Regions from separate parts of the Homo sapiens genome. Here region 2 is linked to region 1. Evidence: fine-mapped QTL for protein levels in blood plasma. A gene starts in region 1. The other region holds a variant in brackets. All regions are shown on one strand. Distances are from middle to middle.

The links. PIP is the chance, under the fine-mapping model, that this variant and not a neighbour inherited with it causes the effect. The UK Biobank Pharma Proteomics Project read protein levels with antibody pairs (Olink). The fine-mapping took linkage between variants from a reference panel, not from the people measured, so its PIPs are less certain.
Region 2: its variant is fine-mapped to the plasma level of the LRTM2 protein (UK Biobank, PIP above 0.99). The variant lies in the coding sequence of LRTM2. If it changes the protein, the assay may bind it differently, which can mimic a change of level.

Annotation. Positions count from the first base shown.
Region 1 is chr12:1,819,356-1,822,257 of GRCh38, reverse strand. LRTM2 (leucine rich repeat transmembrane protein 2) reads right to left here and starts at 1,693. Exons shown (of 5, transcript NM_001039029.3): 1 at 1,444-1,693. All of the region lies in intron 26 of CACNA2D4 (calcium voltage-gated channel auxiliary subunit alpha2delta 4), which reads left to right. RefSeq lists an enhancer at 1,377-2,123.
Region 2 is chr12:1,830,165-1,833,066 of GRCh38, reverse strand. All of the region lies in intron 26 of CACNA2D4 (calcium voltage-gated channel auxiliary subunit alpha2delta 4), which reads left to right. It overlaps LRTM2 (leucine rich repeat transmembrane protein 2), which reads right to left. Exons shown (of 5, transcript NM_001039029.3): 4 at 1,542-2,132. Among named protein-coding and RNA genes, the nearest start is that of LRTM2, 11 kb to the right of the region's middle. RefSeq lists an enhancer at 1,893-2,506. The variant C/T (reference allele first, on the strand shown) is at 1,719.

The sequences.
Region 1 (2,902 bases):
CCCTGGGCTCTGGTGCCTGGGAAACGGGAGCAGAGTTTGCTCCTCGTGGGCCCAGACAAGCTTCTGTCAAACCCCAAAGACACCAGATCGGCTGCTTAAGCAGCCTCTCTCCTTACCCCTCCCCGCGGGCCTGGCTTTCCTGGTCTCCCTCTTTTGGCAGTGCTGAGACTTTCTTTCTGCCGGTGGGGAGGTGGGGGTGGGAAAAGCTGGGCTCTTCTTGGCAGCTCGGAAGCTGCTGTCGGGTTTCCCTACCAGCTGGACTTCCCCCGCCTCAGCTCCACGTGCTCGGCTCCCTCCCCGCCCCCACCTGAGGCAGTTATCTAAGCTGCAGGGGTGTCATCTGAGTCACAAAGAGACACTGCCCAAGTAGCCCTGACAGCCGGGTGCCAACACCCCCCAGAAATGTGGACAGCTTGGGGGTGGGGGAGAGACAGGGCCGCCAACTGGAACCCAGCCCCAGACCTGCAGGGAGGTGCAGGAATGTGAACTTCCGACTCCTGGTCAGGCTGCTCCTCTCTCCAGCACTGTCCAAATGGGTCTGGGGGATTGAGAGCAACTGTCCCGCTCTACTCAGGGTGTCCATGCCCCCTGTGTGGGTCAAGAAGCCAGGCAGGCCTGGCCCCGCTGTGTACCCCCCACCCAAGCTCAGTGTCCAGCCCCCACTAAGGCTCCCTGACCCATTTGCAGATGGACGGCTGGGTGCACAGCTGCGGGACACCCCAGCAGGTTCTCGCGGGCCTGGTTCTCCTGTCTTGCCCTTGGGCTAGCAGGGAAGGGCTGCGATACTTCTCTCTCCTGCCCACTCCCAGCCTCACCCTCACCAGGGAGGCTTCATGCACAGCTGAGTGGGCCCATGCTCATCTGGGGGAGGGTTCCTCCACACCCTTGTCCAAGGACAGCCACCTGCAGGCAAGCTATAGGGAGGCCCAGGACCTGGGTCTGTGCCCATGCCTCTGACATCCAGGACCTCCTCCCTGCCACCCTCCACCCCAAGCCTTCCTCTGACCTGGCCCTGTCCCCAGCACCTGACTGCCATCCCAACCGCTTCCCATGACCCCCGAGTTTCTTGGGGCTGTCTGTGCAGAGCCGGGCACAACGACAGCACAAGGCTCTTGGCTGCTTCTCCCATGCTGCAGGGACCGGTTTCTATGCCACCCGGGACTGTCATCTGGCGCCAGCGCTGCCCTCCTCCCCACTTCCCAGCAGAATCCACAGCTCTTGTCCCCAGCACTGTGGGCTCAGAGTTCCCAGTGTCGTGCACCTTTGGGATGCTCAGGTGCCTGAGCCCGAGCAGCTTCTTCGGCCCCAGCAATTGCCTGCAGGTAGGAAGCAACTGCAGCTATTCCTGCAGGGCAGAGATGGCCGGTGCCCACTTCCCATGCCCCGACCACCCCCTGTCCCCACCAACCCTCCATTCCTTCCTACCAGCCACTCGGTACTCACCCGTCTTTACTCTGACTGCAAACGCCTTCAATCAGGTGGCTCTCAACCCTCCAGTAAGACCCTCCTGGGATTCCTATAGAAATCCAGACACCACCGGCAGGCAGAGCGCAGTGGGCACTGGTGCCAGAGTCTCCACTCAGCGGGAGCAGCGGCTGGCACGCAGCACACAGCACCAGGAGGTGGACTGCTTGTGGCAGACGGGGGACGGGGCTGCTGGGTCAGTCACAAACTGAGAAGGAAAGAGAGGGATGGAGGGAGAGAGAGAGAGGAGAGAGGGAAGAAAGGGGCGAGGGAGGAGAGCGCACGCGTGTGCGCGAGCAGCGAGCCAGAGTGGAGCGGGGAGTGACAGCTGGGGTGCATCTGTGATGACAGCGGCAGCAGCACACACAGGCGCACACCAGAGGCACCACGGCCGGCCGCGAGGGCAGCGCTCACCCTGGCCACGCTCACATTTCAGTGGAAAAAGGCGCCTGTGGATGAATCGCTGCCGACCACAGGGAGGAGGAAAGCGGTTTCACCACCACCTCCATCTTCCATCCTGCGCCTCCAGGCTCTCCCTCACCCCCCCGGCTGCACCTGTCTTCTGTGCCTCTCTCCTCTCTTCCCCTCCATCTGGGGAAAGAGGGACAGGCGCAGACACAGAGCAAGCGGCTGACTTCTGTTCCGATGGAGGCCCCCCTGGGAAGCTGGTCTTTCTCCTGTTTTAGAGACATGCGAGGCAGAGTCTCCCATCCTGCCTGAGAGAAGGAAAAACCGAACCCTTCTCTCGGTCATACGAAAGAAGGGTACACAGGCATGTCCATGTGCCAGATGACCCTACAGGAAAGGGCCCTGAGCCCCCACAAAGCCAGGGATCACATGGTCATGCAGAGGTCACTGAGCCTCAGGGTCTGACCACCCGACGCCAGGACTACTTAGGGAAGCAGAATGCCAGAGTTGGCAGGCTGGGAGTTTGGGCACAGGGCAGCCTGCAGCAGCAGCCTGCAGACCGTTCTCAGTGCCAGGGACGAGCTTGGCTTCTCAGGGCTCCTTGCTCTTATCTGTGATGGGTCAGGCATGCGAAGGGAAGAGACTGTCATTCAAGAACTTGGAGGCCTCTTTCTTAACCAATCAGGACAAAGCAAGTCAGAAAAATTGATATCCTAAGAGATGGGAAGTGGCTGATCTGAAGGCCAAGTGAGTCAGGGACCAAGCTAGAGGGGAGCCAGGGCCCCACCAGCCTGGAGCACGAACCCTAAATCCCCCTTCCTTTGCGTCCACTGCCTGTAGACAGATGAAGCACCGTGCTAGCGATATATCACCGTGTCCTATGTCCCTCTTCCATTTTGCCTGCTTTGCTGGAGGGGTTCACAGCCAGGACTGGGGTGGGTGTAGAAGAACCCCCTGGACTCAGGATGCCCCTAGAAGGATGCTCCTGCTCACTCCCTTCTGTCCGTTCTGCCGGGTCCCCGGGCAGCAC
Region 2 (2,902 bases), 11 kb before region 1:
CCGGCGACCACAGGAGAGGAGGGTCTGAAGACACCCGGCCTAGTTCCCCTGTGCGGCTGACACCTCGGTGGCCTGCAGCAAACCTCACATCCCAGGAACACGTATCAGTGCTGCCTGGGGATGCAAAGCTGGGTGCTGACAGGGATGCAGCCTCATTTCCCTGCTGGGAAGACCCACGGTTGAATCCTGGCTGTGTCATCTTGTGAAAATTATTTAATTTATTTAATTACTTATGAGTTTTAGTTTTCTTAGCTGTAAAATAAGAAGGTCTATCTCAATTAGCTGCTGTAAGGTTTAAAATCATGTACATGAAAAGACATTGGTAAACTGGAAACTATATAAGTAGTAATCATTATTTCCCCGCTCATGAAAATGGGGGAAATGATCATAGTGACTAACATTTTGTGGCACTTTATAGTTTGTAAAACATTTTTAATTAACTAACACAGGAGAATTTCATGGAAATAATTGAAATTGTGGCTGGAGATTAAATGAAAGTAGTAAGACTTTAACAAAAAGCATTGGCATTATTTTCACCACTTAAATGTTGATTCCTTAGCCCAGCAAACATTCATTGAGCATCTTCTTCGTGCCAAATGGTGTTTCAAGTCCACTTAGTATTTGATTATTACCAGGAAGTGAACGGATAAATGGACGTTTTATTGAGGACTCACTTTGTGCTGGGCACCTCTCAAGCCACGTTCCGTGCATTGCCACATTTAATTCTCATAATGACCCTACGAAATAGATATTGTTTCCTTCCCACTTTACAGACCAGGCCCTGCCACAGCGAAAGGGTAACCAGCTTTCTCAAGATCACACAGCTGGCAGGTGGCAGAGCCGAAATTCAGACGCAGACCTGGCCCTCCTCACCACCATCTTGCGCACCCTCCTCTCCCATGTCATGTGATCATGTCATAGGTCATTACAGCACTTTCCCATATTAAAGAAAATGGGAAGGGAAGAAAGTAAAGCCTAACCCATTTGACTTCTTCTTAAAGTTTGGATAATAAAACTTGGGAGAGGAAGTTGGCACTGTCACCAAAAGGAAGATTTGGTTTTACTGAGGATTCATTCTATTCCCCTCTCATGTAAGGGGAGATGTTTAAGAGATGGCTGTATTCTTCAGAAGAGCTGTTTTTCTCCCTCCTTCTACCACACTGGGGAAGCCCACAGGCAAACTTGGCGGGATACAAAGCCCAGGTGTCTTTACTGCCCTTATGTAACCTAAGAAAGGGAGATCCAGTTCAGTGAGTCCTAGGAGAAAGTGGGGAGCTGGCTGGGGGAGGGGATGCAGAGCAGGGAGGGGAGGGTGGGGGTGGAGGGAGCAGCACCAGCCTCTCTCCCATTGGCAGGAAGGGTGATGGCTCATGTGAGGGGAGGCTTGTGACTTTTCTAGCCGAGCTGGCACAGAGGCAGGGTCGCCCCCTTCTTTCCCCTGGCCTGCTCTCTGAGTCAGCACCCAGCCACCAGGAGGAAAGTGTGGGGCCAGAGGTGATCGTCCCAATCCCTCGGGCCCCAGCAGGGCCGGCTGCGCTCACCTCGGTAGGAGAACCACTCCATCCAGTGTTTGAACTCACGCAGGTTACAGTCACACTCCCAGGGGTTATCCCCGACCTGCAGCAGCTGCAGGTTTGCTAGGGGTTCAAATGTCAGCCGGTCCAGATTCTGCAGACGGTTGGAGCGAAGCGAGAGGGAGCGCAGAGCCAGGAGCCCGT[C/T]GAAAAGACCAGGGGGCAACTGGGCCAGGCCGTTGATGGACAGGTCCAGGTGGCGGAGCAGCGGCGAGTGCCGCAGCAGGTCCCTGTCCAGGGTCCTGATGCTGTTATTGCGCAGCTGAAGCTCAGTCAGATTCGTCAGGTCCCCGAAAATGGAGCGGGGCAGCCGGTCCAGGAAGTTGTTGGACAGGTCCAACCGCTGCAGGCTGGAGAGGTTGGCGAAAGCCCAGCTTGGCAGGGCACTCAGCTTATTGTTCAAGAGCAAGAGGGTTCGGGTGGCTGCGGGCACGTCTGGGGGCACCGTGGTGAGGCCAAGGCCACTGCAGTCCACCTCCAGGCTGCGGCTGTCACACTTGCAGGAGAAAGGGCAGGTGGGGAGGGCCTCCACAGCATACAGGGCGATCCAGCAGGTGATCCCTTGGTGGGAGGGACAGACGGGGGAAAGAAAGCAATAGGACGGGTCACCACCTCCTGCTTCTCTTCCCTCCTTTCTAGCTCATAACAGGCTCTTGGCTTTATCTCCTTTGGCACAAGCCACAATCAATGCATAAACGTTTATTAACCACATAAAAGCATAATTAACAAATCCAAAGCCACTTCCATATTAATGGACATCACACAGTGTCTGCAGGGCGCCCTGCCTTGCCACACATCTGGCAGAGGAATCACTTGAGTGGAGAATGACCCTGCAGACTCAGCCAGAGCCCAGAGACAAGCCATGCTGGTGCAGTGATAGGAAGCTCACAGGGCCTCCCACAGTCATCTCCCGGGGAGTTTGGGTCCCACTGACACCATGGATGTTGACACAAGAAAGGAGATAAGGTTGTCAGAGAAACCTGCTCCCATGCCCTCTCCCAGTGTCACTGCTGGGACAGAGTTTGTTTCCCAGGGAAAATGGCCAGGCTGCTGGCTCCCTCCCCTCTGTGGCCCACCCCAACTCTGGAGCTGTGTATGGAAAGGCGAGAGCACAAAACAGCACTCCTAGCCCTGTCCTTCACGGCGTCCCAAGTGCTGTTATGTTTCCATCAATCCCACACCCATGATGACGCCAGCAGTTTGGCATGAGGATTTAGAGCCCAGGCTGTGCACCTAGGGTCCCACTGTGGGAGTGACAGGCTAAGATGTACAAACCCACTTCAACATTGACAAGTCATGGGGCCCAGGACACATTCCACTTTAACCCCCAC